2 linked regions of the Homo sapiens genome follow. The protein of the gene in region 2 interacts with the protein of the main gene of each other region in a pairwise test. Each region holds a gene or a part of one and is shown on either strand. Other genes may lie near its edges.

Region 1 (7,606 bases), on a different chromosome or scaffold from region 2:
CCCAGCTCTGTGCCACAGCAGGCACCCCCTCACCTGTGCTCCTTCACACCTGAGGGCACATACTTAACTCACCCTACTGTGATCTCCGTCTTCCCCACTACACGGTGGATGACTTCAGGGTAGTGGGTTGCTCATCTGTTTTCCCAACATTGAGGACTATTCCTTATAGATATCAATACATTTTGAAATGACACAATGAGCCAGAGAGCATGGAAAATGACAAGAGCTCAGTTCAACCTCAGAACTGCTACAACAGAAGAGTTACGTAGCGCATTGAGACTGTGCCTTTCGAGTGAGACAGAAAGATACAGACAAGTAAGTAAAGACCTTCTCTTGAGACCTGCCTCCTCCTGTCCCCACTGTTCCAGCTGAGCCAGGTGTCAATGCCCTCCAGATCAAGTAGACAGTTCTGCATGAGCTGTAAGGTGGCACACAGGAGGGCGTGGATGTGCACAGGATATTGCCTGCAACTTCTAAGTAGGAGCAGCAGACAGTAGCAGGGCTGAGAAGATACTTCTAACAGAATCGTAGATTATACTGATACAAAATGAACAAACAACAAAAAAAACAGCCAACAGCTGAAAATTTTTAGAATGGCAGTATAGAAAGGACAAAGCAAGAGAGATGCCAATTACACATAGATTTAGGGGTGTATTTTTTATTGCCCTGTGCTAGACAGTGGACACATGGAAATCAATCAGATATGATCACTGTCCTCAGGAACCCAACAGCATAGTGACAGAGATAGTCTATCACATCATTCTGACATATGCAAGTAAATATAGTAATAGCAGTAATCACTGAGCCACAGAAGTGTGGAGAGTGCTGCCAACTAAGCTTGAGGGAAACACCCATTGACATGATGCCTGAGGCTTGTCTTGAACCATGATTCAGAGTTAATTAGCTGAGAAGAGACCCTTCAACAAGAACAAAGGCGAGAGAGGTAGGAAGCCACGTGGAGCACAGGGAAGATGAAGCAGTCGGTGTTGCTGCAGCATTAACCGTGTGGCAGGAAGTCAGGCAGTGGGAGGCAGGGCTCCAGGACGCAGGAGGCCTTAGGGCACACGATGGGAGGCCTGGAGTTCCTCCTCAGGACAACAGGGAAATGGCTCGGGGTTCATACACGAGTTACCTTTCTTCAACTTAACACATCAAAATGTCCTAGGTAACATTCTCCTAAATCGTAAGATTAGATACACAGTTGTGCTGTAATAAGGGATTTAAGTCAAGGATGGACTCTGCTTAACTGGGGATGAAACTTCTTAAAAACCTTTTCTTGAGACCTGTCTTCTCCCTGCCCCTACTGTTCCAGCTCAGAGTCAGGTGTCAAGCCCTGTGACTCTCCTGAGGACAGTGCTCACAGCTGAGGAGAAGGGCTGAGCCGAGTAGGGCTGCACAGTGGCAGGTGGCACCCACTGCAAAAGCAGCCCCATCCATGACTCACAAAATTCTGACATGTCCAAATCTTAGAAACCACATGAATCCTAATTCCACGCATTTCCAAACATCACTCACTGGGCGGGAAAGTAATTATTTTATAAGTTACCTGTGTGTTCCCCCTTATCTACAGACCTCTCACCCAAATGTATGGGGGCCTTACTCAAGGAGAGTCCCTCTTGGTGAACCCTTTGATTATTTTTAACGTTTGTAGTTGAGTTAAAATCTCTCCCATACTGACTACATTCATAGAGCTTCTCTTCAGTATGAATTTTCTGGTGTTGAAGGAAGTTTGACCTCTGAATAAAGCCTTTCCCACAATAACTGCACACATAGGGCTTTTCTCCAGTGTGAATAATCTGGTGCAGAAGCAGCTTGGAGCTCTGGATGAAGGCTTTCCCACAGTCTTTACATTCGAAGGGCCTGTCCCCAGAGTGGATCTTCTGGTGCTCAGTGAGATGGGCTTTCTGGAGAAACGCTTTCCCACATTCCTTACATTCATACACTCTCTCTCCAGTGTGGATTTTCTGGTGTCGAATAAGGTATGAACTCAGAAAGAAAGCTTTCCCACACTCGTTACATTCATAGAGTTTCTCTCCAGTGTGAATTCTCTGATGCTGGGTGAAGTTTGACGTCTGGCTGAAGCGCTTCCCACACTCATTGCATACGTAAGGCCTCTCCCCAGTATGGATCCTCTGATGCTGAATGAGCTTTGAACTCCGAATAAAGGCTTTCCCACACTCATTGCATTCAAAGGGTCTCTCTCCGGTGTGAATTCTCTGGTGTTCAATAAGGTCTGAGCGATGACGGAATGCCTTCCCACATTCTTTGCATTCATACTGTTTCACTTCTGTGTGGATCTGATAATGGCGAATGAGGCTCGAGCTCCTTATGAAGGATTTCCCACATTCATTGCACTCATAGGGCCTTTCTCCCGTGTGAATCCTCTGATGGCGAATAAGTAAGGAGCTCTGACTGAAGCCTTTCCCACACTCTTTGCATTCAAAAGGTCTCTCTCTGGTGTGAACTCTCTGGTGCCTAATCAGGTCTGAACTGTGACAAAACGCCTTCCCACACTGCGCACATTTGAAGGGCTTTTCTCCTGAATGAACGCGCTGATGCTCAATGAGACCTGAATAGTGAATGAAGTCTTTCCCACACACATTACAGACGTAGAGTCTCTCTCCAGTGTGAATTCTCTGATGCTCCATAAGGTGTGAGCTCTGGCCAAAGCCTTTCCCACACTGATCGCACGTGTAAGGTTTCTCCCCAGCATGCGAAATCCGATGCCTAACTAGGTCCGAATTAAACGTGAAGGTTTTGCCACAGATATCGCAAGGATTGGCTTCCCCCTCTATGAGCTCTCTCTGAAGCAGAAGAAGGTCTGAGTTCAGAATATGGTTTCTTCCTGACTTGGTGCACACTTGAGCTGTCTCTCCTGTCTGGATCTTCCAATGGGTCACTGTCACCTGCTTGCAGCCCCTGTCCTGAGAGGGGGAACTCCCCAGGCTCTGACCTTCTGGATTTCCCAAGAGCTCCCCTAATCTGGGCTCGTGGACTTCCTCAGACTCGGGAGAGGGGAGCTCCATCACCGTGAGTCTGTCTGACGTCGTCCTATGTGAGTTTTCATCCTCAGAAATCCAGGCTTCAGTCACCTTCTTCTCACCAGTTCCTACATTAGAATCTGAAACAAAAGACAACAAAATCATCTTTCCCCTTACTTAACAGATGGGGATCTCCTGAATCAGGGCAGGATAAAATCCATATCCAAGAGGTGGAAAGTGTTTCCTCTGCCCCTCATCCTGACCCAACATGCTGCTACCCACAGCTCTGGTCTCACACCCAAGCCTGTCCCACATAAGATGGCTTCTTTGTGGCTCCACTTTTAACATCCAACACCAGGACAGACTGGTCTGTGGTGCACAACACTCCTCTGACCATTAGTGAATCCTGGATGAGTTGCAGAGGGGTGGGGATATGCTTGAACTCCATTAAAAAACCGAGACAGATACTTTAAACAAACGTATAAACACATCAGCCCTGCCACCTCTTCACTGTTCCTCATTCCTTCCTTCATGTCCTCTTCTCCCCTCCATACCTAGCTTAGAGCCCATGATCTGGGGCACTGTGTTCACTGTAAGTTGCATGAGAATCACCCTCCTGCACAGAATCGGGCTCCCCTGCCCTTTCCTCCCTCCATGATACTTGGATGGGAAAGCCCAACCTTTGGTTAAAACGAGGTTGTGTTTTGATTTGTGCCTGCACTCTTGCTGTTTTTTTGTTTGTTTTTGTTTTTTTTTTTTTTAGATGGAGTCTCGCTCTGTCACCCAGGCTGGAGTGCAGTGGTGCAATCTCGGCTCACTGCAAGTTCTGCCTCCTGGGTTCACACCATTCTCCTGCCTCAGCCTCCCAAGCAGCTGGGACTACAGGCGCCCGCCACCACGCCCGGCTAATTTTTTTGTATTTTTAGTAGAGACGGGGTTTTACCGTGTTAGCCAGGATGGTCTCGATCTCCTGACCTCGTGATCTGCCCGCCTCGGCCTCCCAAACTGCTGGGATTACAGACGTGAGCCACCACATCCAGCCAGCTGACTGAGCTCTTTAAATTCAGAGCTGCTTGCCTAATGGGGCCTGAGAGCTGCCAGCAACTCCTACCCTTCCCACTCCCCACAGGACCTTCCACTTCTCCTATCTTCTTACAAACTCAGCACTCCCTCCTCCCTCCCCACTGGTGACCTTGCTTCTTGTTTCAATGAGAAAACAGAAGAAATCAGGCAAGGACATCCACTGCCTCCCACGTCTCCTGCCAGCCTGTATCTCCACCCATCCTCTGCCAGGCTTGTTACCTGGGTTAAACTGCCCTTGTTCTGACTTAAAGGCAACACTTCCACTTGTGTGTGAGCTCCCTTTCCCTCTCACACATGCAGGGACAGCACCTGAGCACCCATCCCTCTCCTCCATCCTGAAGTCCTTGCCCTCCAAGCCCACCACTCCCCTCAGCATGAAGAAGTGCGCCAGTTCCCAGCGACCTGAAAAATGCACGTCATGGGCCCCATGTCCCACCAATTACTACCCCATGACTCTCCTCCTCCGCAGCCCCATTCAAAGAGCCCCCACCCCACGCTCGATTTCTCCATTTCCTCCTTCCCCTGAGCCTACTACAGTAGGGCTCTCACCCCAAACATCCACGTCACCATATCAGGGGTCAGCTATGGCCACACTTCCAACTCAACCTGCGGTGGCACTGACACAGCCCCGCTCCTTCAGAAGTCACTCTCCTTATGTGAATCTGGGACAGCCTTTCTCTGTTCCCTACCCGCCTCACTGATAGCTCCTCCCAGTGTCCCCTGACGCCTCAAAGCCCTGGCGTGTCTAGGGCTCAGCCCTCATCTCTGTCCATTACAGAGGGGAGTGCACTCATTATCAGACACCAACGCCATCTATGCTGAACACTCACATGCCTGCCTCCAACCTGGCCTTCTTTCCAGCCCCAACACCTGACCAGCTCCTCACCCAACACCTTCATTTGGATGCTCTCAGAAGTTTTTCAACCCTAATGCGTCCAGCCTCACTTCTGATTTTCCTCCTTCTATAGTTTTCTCCATTATCTCATTTGTTCAGGCCACAGACACTGCAATAACCCTTGAATCCTCTTCCCTTTGTTCACACTCCACATCTGTTCAAAACCATGCCCAGCGCCAGACGCCCACAGCCTACAGGGCTGCCATCTGCACCATCGCCTTTCACCATGAAGCGTGACCACCTCCCACCTGCTTACTTCTCCCCTTCTCCAGCTCTTTTCTACACAGCCAGCAGAATTACGCTTTAAAATCATAAATCAGATGTCACTTTTCTACTCAAAACTGACAAAGGTTTCCCATCCCCTACTCTGGCCCCACAAGGGCCACTGGGCCTGGACTCCTGCTGCTCACCCTGCCCTCCCCTTCCCTCTTCTTTGGTCACACTGGCCCCTGCAGTCCCTGCCCCCTCGGAGCCTTTGCACTTTCGTAGAAAGACTCCAAAGATATTTGCAGGGTTCACTCCTAGATGTCCTTCAGGTGTCTGTGTTGACGTCACCTGATCAGAGTCCCTCCTAGTCACACTATAAAACAGCAAGGCTGGCTGGGCATGGTGGCTCACGCCTGTAATCCCAGCACTTTGGGAGGCAGAGGCGGGCGGACCACGAGGTCAGGAGATCGAGACCATCCTGGCTAACACACTGAAACCCCATCTCTACCAAAAATACAAAAAAAATTAGCCGGGCGTGGCGGCAGGCGCCTGTAGTCCCAGCTACTTGGGAGGCTGAAGCAGGAGAATGGCCTGAACCCAGGAGGCGGAGCTTGCAGTGAGCCAAAATTGTGCCACTGCACTCCAGCCTGAGTGACAGAGCAAGACGCCGTCTCAAAAAACGAAACAAAACAAAAAAAAAAAAAACAGCAAGGCACCCCCACCCTCAGCATGCCCTCTCTCCTGCCTCTGCTTTCTCTGCACAGTTCTGACCACTTGACCAATCATAAGTCACCCAATCAAAGCAGCCATCGACTGCGAGATGTGACACAATTTTATGAACCATGAAGGAAAATAAAAGTACCAATTTAAATGAAAACACTCCATCAAGCCAGGCACAGTGGCTCACTCCTGTAATCCTAAGACTTTGGGAGGCAGAGGTGGGAGGGTCACTTGAGACCAGGAGTTCAACGTCTGCCTGGGCAAGGTAGAAAGATCCCATCTCTACAAAAAACATTTTTAAAAACAGCCAGGCAAGGTAGCACACCTGTGGTTCCAACTACATGGGAGACTGAGGCAGGAGAATCACTTGAGCCCAGGAAGTTGAGACTGCAGTGAGCCGTGCTTGTGCCACTGCATTCCAGCCTGGGTGACAGAGCAAAACCCTGTCTCAAACAACAACAAAAAACACTCCATCAATTCTAACAGGCAACTCAATTTCAGAGACATTAAAATATGGAGAAAGTGTATCTTAGAATCAATGAATTGTGATATATACATGCATGCACACACACACACACACACACACGCACACACCCCACAGGCAACAAACTATGTGTTTTGTTGTCTCCCCCACAAGTATGTGAGTGCTGTGTGGGCAGGAACTTTGTTCTGTTCTTTATCCTCAGCAACCCAAACAATTTCTGGCATAAAGTAATACATTTCATCAATATCTGCTGTATGAATGAATGTTCTAATCATGCATACATAATACACTCAATACAAGGTAATAAGCCAGGTACAGTGGCTCATGCCTATAATCCCAGCATTTCCAGTGGCCAAAGCAGGAGGACTACTTGAGGCCAGGAGTCCAAGACCAGCCTGGGCAACATAGCAAGACTCCATCTCTAAAAAACAATTTTTTATTTAGCTGGGTGTGATGTTGCATACCTGTGGTCCCAGCTATTTGGGAGGCTAAGTCAGGAGGATCACTTGAGCCCAGAGGTTTGAGGCTGTAGTAAGCCATGACTATGCCATGGAACTCCAACCTAGGTGACAGAGTGAGACCCTGTCTCTAATTAAAAAAAAAGCTCCAACACTTCTAGTATTAAACACTGAAATAAATGTGAGTTATACATACCTTACCTTAAAGAAAGATTAACAGTGCTTGCTACAGCTCTTTTAGAATGTCTAGCAGGTTTCTCAGTTTTTACTGGAAAATCTCCCATAAAAAAAAAAATTAAGAAAAACAAGATAATTATTTACCCACTTATTTTAATGCACGGTTCTGGGTAGCTGGAGCCTATCCTGGCAGCTCAGGGTGCGAGGTGAGAACCAGCCCCGGATAGGACAGGGTCCCACCACAGGGCAACTCACACACCCAAACTCGCTCATGCTGGGACCAAGGAGACACCCCAATTCACCTAATGGACACATCTTTGGGACGTGGAGGAAAGCAGGCGGCCGTGGGGAGAATGTGCACACTCCACACATGGTGCTCCCAGCCAGGAATCACTTTTTCCCTCATAGATGTTATAACGAAACAATGATATCTGAGGCTCTGCCATGGAAAGGGGGGAAGCCAGAATCCACTCTCTGAAAGCAGAGACCAAAGGAACAGTGACTGCTTTGAGAGAAAGTTTCTTTCTTGGCGCCTGCACTTTACCAGCCTCAAGTCTGAGGATTTGTCTTTTTTTTTTTTTTGAGATGGAGTCTCGATCTG
Region 2 (8,212 bases):
AATTCACAGAGACAGACAGTAGGATGGTAGCTGTCAGGGATTCAGGGGCGGGGAATGGGGAATGTGTTTAATGGGGACAGAGTTTCAGTGTGGGAAGGTGATAGGGTCCTGGAGATGGCTGCTGGTGATGCTGGCACAATATGAATGTACTTAATGCCACTGAACTATGTACCCCCAAATGGTTAAGATGGCAAAATAGACATGATGAATATTTCTGCACAATTTAAAGAAAGAAAAAGTGAGGGTGATGTGGGGGTGCTGGCTGCACTAGATGGTAAAACATAAGAGAGTCTTGCAGACAAGACCCAACGCAGAGGGGAAGTGAGTGCCTGAGTGGGCGTGTGGAGTACCAGTGGGAACTAGACGACCCTTCCAGGATGGGACTGGGACCTCTGCTGCCATCTGGATCCTGCCTCATTCTTGACATCAAAGAACTCCAAATGGGCCAAAGGTATCATGTAACAGTTAAAATAAGAAATTACTTAAAGAAAATATTGTCCACCTCATTTATCATCTCAGGGAGACAAAGTCCTTTTAAAGTATGGCAATAACCACTGAGGCCCAAATCCAACTTGAGTTTCTGCTCTAGAAAACTTACGCATAGTCTAAAACCACCATAGACAAAAATGACAAAGCAAATGACAAAATGTAGATCGTCTGCAACAGAAATCGCAGAGGTCTACTATCTCACCAAGAAGCTCTTCCTGGATGAACTGTTTGCTGAGCAAGAAATAGAAATAACCCTCAACACACAAAAAGATGTACCAGCTTGTTGTCATAAGAGAATGCCAATTAAGATTGTAATGAGATGTCATTTTCACCTATTAGGCTGTCAAAAAACCCCAACAAGGCCGGGCGTGGTGGCTCACGCCTGTAAACCCAGCACTTTGGTAGACTGAGGCGGATGGATCACATGGTCAGGCGTTCAAGACCAGCCTGGCCAATATGGTGAAACCCCGTCTCTACTGAAAAAACAAAAATTAGCCGAGTGTGGTGGCACGTGCCTGTAGTCCCAGCTACTCAGGAGGCTGAGGCAGGAGAATCGCTTGATCTCAGGATGCAGAGGTTGCAGTGAGCTGAGACTGCGCCACTGCACTCCAGCCTGGGCGACAGAGTGAGACTCTGTCACCAAAAAAAAACCAAACAAACAAAAAAAACCAACAACTTTAGTGCAGACTAAAGCGGCCAGTGTGGATGGAGCAGGCCTTCTCTGGGTCATCTTTATCAGTCTAAAATAAGCCATCCTTTCCCCAGCTGTGATGGTGTGTTTCATGTGTTAGCTTGGCTAGGCTCGAGTCCCCAGTGATTCCATCAAACACGAATCTAGGTATTGCTGCGGAGGTATTCTGTAGATGTGGGTAACATGTGTAACCCACTGACTTTAAGTGAAGGAGACCATTCTCAATGATGTGGATGGGCCTCATCCAATCAGTTGAGGGTCTTAAGAAGAAAAATGAGGTTTCCCTAAAAAGAAGAAATTCCGCCTGTGGACTCAGCCTTAGCTCCTGCTGCAATTTCTGGCCTGCTCTTCCTGCTGGCCTGCCCTGGGATTTTGGACTTGCCAGCTCCCAAAATGGCAGAAGCCAATTCCTTGAAATATACATATATTTCTTTCTTTCCTTCTGTTTTTTGTTTTGTTTTGTTTTTTGTTTGTTTGTTTGTTTTGAGATGGAGTCTCGCTCTGTCACCCAGGCTGGAGTGCAGTGGTGTGATCTTGGCTCACTGCAACCTCTGCCTCCCAGGTTCGAGCAATTCTCATATCTCAGCTTCCCAAGTAGCTGGGACTATAGGCATGGGCCACCATGCACAGCTAATTTTTTTGTATTTTTAGTAGAGACCGGGTTTCGCCATGTTGGCCAGGCTGGTCTCAAACTCCTGGCCTCAAGAGATCCACCCACCTCAGCCTTCCAGAGTGCCGGGATTACAGGCATGAGCCACCATGCCTGGCTGAAATATACTTCTTTACATACATATATCTGTGGTTCTGTTTCCCTGCACAATCCTAATATACCAGGAATCTCATTTCTAGGAATTGATGCTTCCAGATACATGATATACAAACAAACCTATTCACAGCAACACACCTGCATTAGCAAAAGACTGCAAACAAACTGTTCGCTTAAAGGGAGCTGGCTCAATATACCACATCCATAAAATGGGATACTCAGCAGCCATTGAAAAGAACAAGGCAGCCCCATCAGAACTGAGGCAGAACAATCTCCCAGGTACAGCAAAAGAGGCAGGGTACAGAGCAGCACGTCCACTCCTCTGCTAACCTTTGTGTAAAAACCATTATAAAATGTATATGCATGGGAGCTTTTGAGTGCATGAGTCAGCCTCGGAGGACAGAAATGAACCCGGAGAAGGGCTGCTTCTGTCCAGGGAGCTGCTTGGCTCGGAGACTCCTCTGCCATTGTCACTCATCCTATTGTTTGGATTCTGTGCATGTATATGCCTCACCTACTCTCAAGGTAACTGTTCATTCTAGGAGGCAGTGGAAGCAGCGGACAGGTGTGAGCTTGGCTGCAGGAGAAGCTGATGTGCATGCCTGTCTTCCCCTTAACTGGCTTCACTCACGTGCATGCAGCTCCCAGTGTCTGGAGGAATGGATGTTGACCCTCGGTTTAGAGCCTTGCTCCTCCAAGTGTGGCCTCTATCCAGTAGTATGGTGACCCCTGAGAGCCCGTTAGAAATGCAGAGGCCAGGCATGGTGGCTCACGCCTGTAATCCCAGCACTTTGGGAGGCCGAGGCAGGCAGATCACTTGAGGTCAGGAGTTCAAGACCAGCCTGGCCAACATGGTAAAAGTCCATCTCTACTAAAAATAGAAAAAATAGCTAGGCATGGTGGCAAGGTAAGCCTGTAATCCCAGCTACTTGGGAGGCTGAGGCAGGTGAATTGCTTGAACCCAGGATGTAGAGGTTGCAGTGAGCTGAGATTGTGCCACTGCACTCCAGCCTGGGTAATGGAGTGAGACTCGGTTTCAAAAAAAAAAAAAAAAGAAAGGCAGAATCTCAGCTTCATCCTGACCTGCAATCAGCATCTGCATTTCCACAAGATCCCAGGAGGCCTCTGTGCTGGGTGGAGTTTGAGAGGCCCTGCTTTAAAGCATCCAAATAGTAAGGCAATGGGGACATCTGATAAACCGAGAGATTACAATTTGCTTTACCTCCTCAGGTGTTTACACATCCCAAGGGCTCTACCTGAGTTGTGTCTGTGTTCACTGCCTCCTTCCCTAGGATGAATTAGATTGTACTTCAGGTTAACTGAATCGTGCAGTATCAACCAAAGCATGTGTCTACGCGATAGCTTCCATTTAGTCTGCTACCATTGCATTCCAATGCTGCACTAAGGAAATTGTTGTAAACCAGAAATAAAATCCTATGCCTTCCAGCCAACTCAACAGACCCCCTCTTGGCCAAGTGGACCCCAGAGAAACCTGAAAATCTGAATTCCTGGCCGTAACAGGAAGAGAAGCCAGGCCCTTTTGGAGTTTAGGTTGAAATTGAGATCATAAGGTTGGCCAAAAAGACTCTGGAGTAGTAAGATACCATATTATAAAGTCATGTGAGGCAGGGGTTAAGTCACACACACCCCACAAACCATGAAATCTCCTTGGATGAGTTTCCATGAACTCAGTATAAAATGGCTTACTTTCCAACCCGACTCTGGTATAGCATCACAAGACAGATTGCAGACCCTAAAGGAAATACAAATATTTTACCTAAAAATATATTTTGTGGACATATTTTGAAACGGCTGTAACAGGACCAACAGATTGAAATGGCCCTGCCATGTTTTGTGGGGGGGGAATTTGCACCTGTAGAGAATCTCCATTAATGCAGTCAGACCTCTCCCCTTCTAGGCCTTCCCTGAATCTAGGAGAGATTAACTGAGAGCCTGCTGCCTCTAAGGCCTGAAAAGAAACATTTACCATTTATTCTCTCTGAAGGCTGCTACCCAGAGTCTTCATCTACATACCTTTGGCCTCTAACACTGCCTTAACTCAGGCATTTCTTTCTATTGATGTCAAGTTTGTAGACAAAGTTTAACTCTTTCAAGCAATCGTCAACCAGAAAATCTCTGAACCCACCTATGACCGGTAAGCTCCCCCTCCTTCAAGGTGTCCTGCCTCTTTAGGGAGGGCAAGTACACCTCCCATGTATTGATTTATGATTTTACCTACAATTCCTGCCTCTCTGAAATGTATAAAATCAAACTGCATCCTGACAGCCTCAGGCACACTTCCTCAGGACCTCCTGAGACTGTTCCCAGAGCCATGGTCCCTCATATTTGGCTCAGAATAAACCTCTTTCAAATATTTTAACAGAGTTTGGTTTTTCCATTAGCAATCCATTATCATCATCCACACTCGTCTCCTGGAATATGCACTAGAATCTATGAGGAGACACCATTTTACAAAGAAAGCTGAGGCTCAGAGAGGTTAAGTAACTTGGCCAGAGCTAGACAGCCATCAAAACCAGATGTCACTGGCTCTAAGCCACCATCTCTCTGTCTGAGGTTGAGCTGCTTCTACGAAGGCGATATGGTTTGGCTCTGTGTCCCCACCCAAATCTCATCTTGAATTGTACTCCCATAATTCCCACCTGTTGTGGGAGGGACTCAGGGGGAGATAACTGAATCATGGGGGCAGTTTCTCCAATACTGTTCTCATGGTAGTGAGTAACTCTCATGAGATCTGATGGTTTGATAAGGGGAAACCCCTTTCACTTGGCTCTCATTCTCTCTCTTGCCACCGCCGCCAGGTAAGAAGTGCCCATTGCCTTCTGCCGTGATGGTAGAAGGCCTCCCCAGCCATGTGGAACTGTAAGTCCGTTAAACCTCTTTCTTTTGTAAATTGCCCAGTCTCAGGTATGTCTTTATCAGCAGCATGAAAATGGACTAATACAGGAGGCTAACAAGGAGGTAAACGACAGAGCTGACCAACGTCACCTACAGAGAGAGCAAGACTAAAGAGAGAGGCGTTCAGAAGAAAAGGAAAGAATGGAAGCTGGCATCCTGAACCACGCGAAGACGTACCTGGTGATAGGCCATCAGGTGCTGAAAGATCTCCTCCATGGAAGAGTCTGTTGCCGAGCTGGACTGGAAAGCCCCAAAATCCCAGGATTTCTTCTTCTTTTCTTCTTCCAGCTCCTTCTCTCTGACCTTCTGCAATGCACCCCTGTATACCTGGTCCTGGCAGTAGACAATCTGTTCCATCTGGAAGTGGAGGCGGATCAGCTTCTCACCTTCTCTCTCTTGTTCTGCTCTAATGTCTTCAATTTTGGACTACAGTAAAAAATAAATAAATACAGTTTCCCTCAAGACACAAATTCCTGAGTCACAGGAAAGTAGGTAAGAAGTCCGTAAATACCAGGTTACCCAACGTGAGTGAAACAGCACGTTTCCTGGAACAGCCCTCTGGGCCGCGCCCTGGTGTATCTAAGGCAGGTTTCTAGCCCTGGCTGAGGGTCAGAGCTTCCCAGGAGGCTTGAGCCACAGATGGGCCGGACCCCCATCCCGGGGCCTGGGGACCTGCACAGGCTTGCTTTCAGGCCCCGTAACTCAGCTTCTTTCCTTTCTCTTTTAGGGGCTTCTATATCTGATGGCGAGGATTGTCATATCCATCAGATAATCCACAGGGATGAGCAGGAAAGCCATGTTTAAGTCAGAAAATTATGTTTTATGTTCCCGGGGTTTAGAGAAACTGGTTGCCAAAACCTGAGGAGGAGAAACTTCACCCCTGGACCCTCCAGGCCTTGAGGAGAGGCACAGTGCACAGTGGCAGGTGCATCCTAAACATCTTACTCCACGTCCATCTCAACCTTCTGAGGAAGGCCTTATCAGTCTTCTTTTATGAATGAGGAGTCAGGGGCACAGGCTGGAAGTGGCACATCCCAAGGCCTCCAGCTGGTGAATCATGGGGCCAGGCTCCTCATCTGTGCCGGGGACACCTATTTCTAAGAGTGGCTAAGTCTGGTCTCTTGGCCCAGTCTGTCCCCCAGGCTCATTTCCTGTAGGCTCTTTCCTCACTCTGGATGGAAAGTTTTTTTGTTTGTTTTTTTTTTTTTTTTTGAGACGGGGTCTCGCTCCATCGCCTAGGCTAGAGTGCAGTGATGCAATGTTGGCTCACTGCAACTTCCACCTCCTGGGCTCAATCAATTCTAAAGTGTCAGCCTCCCAAGTAGCTGGGATTACAGGCATGCACCACCACGTCCAGCTACTTTTTTGTATTTTTAGTAGAGATGGGGTTTTGCCATGTGGGCCAGGCTGGTCTCAAACTCCTGGCTTTAAGTCATCTACCGGCCTCAGCCTCCCAAAGTGCTGGGATTACAGGCTCATCATGCCCACTCGGGCCAGAAATATTCTATTTTTATATGTAGTTTCCTCAGTGAGTTTCTGGATTTGGAGCCATTGCCCTTAGATGTGATAATCTTCTCCGCTAACTGTGGATCTCTTGTTCTGTGCGTTTAAGCACTCCCTCCTTTATTGCTTTTAACCAGACATCACCGGTAACATCAGAAGAAGCACTAGTGAGTGATGTTATTTGCTGTTCTAAAAGTATACAATAAAGTTGAAATAATCCTCATCCAAGAAATCTATTTTCTAGTGTCAAGCTTAATTTCTTTTCTTTTTTTTTTTTAAACAACACATGGTTGGTTTTACCTTGGCGGTTCTGTGGAGGTTAAAAAACTCTTCAAAATTTTTTATCGAAACATCTGTGAAAGCAAGCCGGACCATATCTAATCAAAGAGAGAAAAATAGTTCAATATTGGTAGGATCATTTGTTCTCTTCTTAAGATGCAAAAAAATATGAGGATCAAATGGTATGAAGTAAAGTTTCCCCTCTCCCCGCTCCCTTCTTCTCTTTACCATGAAAAAGCAAGGCATGCTCTTTTTGCTTAATAATTTGCTGGAAGAATCTTAAAAGCAAATGACCCCTGGCATACATTTATTTGATATTTAAACTTTTTATCCTAAATAGCTGCAAAGAATGTAATTTCTTTTAAATTATAAATATTAATATTTTATAATACAACTCTTAATATAAGTCAAATCACTCTTAAATATATCAATGGAATTTGAGTGTCTACATTATCCATTTGAAAAAAATACAAGAACAAGCTCTTAGATTAAAAAATTTATATTATTTATCTTTTATTTTTGAAACTCATTTCTATTCTACTTCCTCACAGAATTTTATTGTAATACAAGGTATAGTATCTTTATGATTGAAAACCTCTTATTGATCTCCATGTCATACATTTCTGAAAAAGAAATAGGTATATCTATGTTGATTTTTATGACTATAAGGCTCTAAGTATTATAAACTTTCCTCTGGAATGAGTTAAGAGTCTACAATGGACCAAAACAACATGATTGCAGGTTTTGGTATATGATTATCAGGGCTAAAAGGTCAATTTTACTGGAAATACACCTCTGAATGAGCTGTTCTGAGGCTATCTCCAGCTCCTTAGTTCATGGATCCATGAGTGATTATTAATTACTGCTAAGATGAGGCAGCTGAAGTGTGAGTAAGGATACTGTCAGTCAAGGAGAGGATGAAGAATAGAGATTTAATACCTGGAAAACCAAGAAAGCAAAGCATTTCAAGAAGGGAGTGGATCCACAGTAGGATCTAGTTTCCTACCTATCCGTGACACACCTAGATTCCTACAGCACTCCAAAAGGTTCCAAACACATCTACACGTGCAGTTATGGAACCATTGGCTTTACTCCTCGGAGATTTCAAATAAACAGCCGATTTTGAGTGTGAAGCCAGCATAGCAGTGGAGCAGGGGGGAGGTGTGGTGTGATAGGAAAAATATAAATATTTTGTCTTTGTCCCCATTTCCTAACATAGAGCCCCTACATCTCTTGGAATGTCCAGCCTTAGGAGTATCTCGTGTTTTGAAGAGATGATGCCTGGTGGGCCCCTACATAGCTTCAGGATTGGGGCCGGGCACTAGAAAGACCAAGCCTTGGCTAGAAACTTAGAACTTCCAGCTCCACAGAGGAGGGAGGGCCTGGAGATTGAGTCAATCCTCCATCATGCCTTCATGATGAGGCCTCCATAAAACCTTCTCCGCGGTGAGGTTCCAAGAGCTCCCTGGTTGATGACCACATCTCTGTGCCATGAGGATGGTGCCCCCAACCCCGTGGGGACAGAAGCTTCTGTGTTCAGGCCCCTACTATGTGCCTCTCCAACAGCT

The links. The genes of interacting proteins can lie anywhere in the genome.
Region 1: the proteins of MX1 (region 2) and ZNF623 interact in a two-hybrid assay, tested with the Homo sapiens proteins (one study listed by BioGRID).

Annotation. Positions count from the first base shown.
Region 1 is NC_000008.11:143,645,413-143,653,018, reverse strand, and holds part of ZNF623 (zinc finger protein 623), read right to left. Parts: exon of another isoform or gene 6,212-7,606; intron 4,917-6,211; exon of another isoform or gene 4,614-4,916; intron 3,236-4,613; exon of another isoform or gene 3,147-3,235; coding exon of another isoform or gene 3,027-3,146; coding exon 1,536-3,026; 3' UTR 1-1,535. UniProt on the Homo sapiens protein: May be involved in transcriptional regulation.
Region 2 is NC_000021.9:41,449,697-41,457,908, reverse strand, and holds part of MX1 (interferon-induced GTP-binding protein Mx1), read right to left. Parts: intron 6,743-8,212; coding exon 6,666-6,742; intron 5,289-6,665; coding exon 5,040-5,288; intron 1-5,039.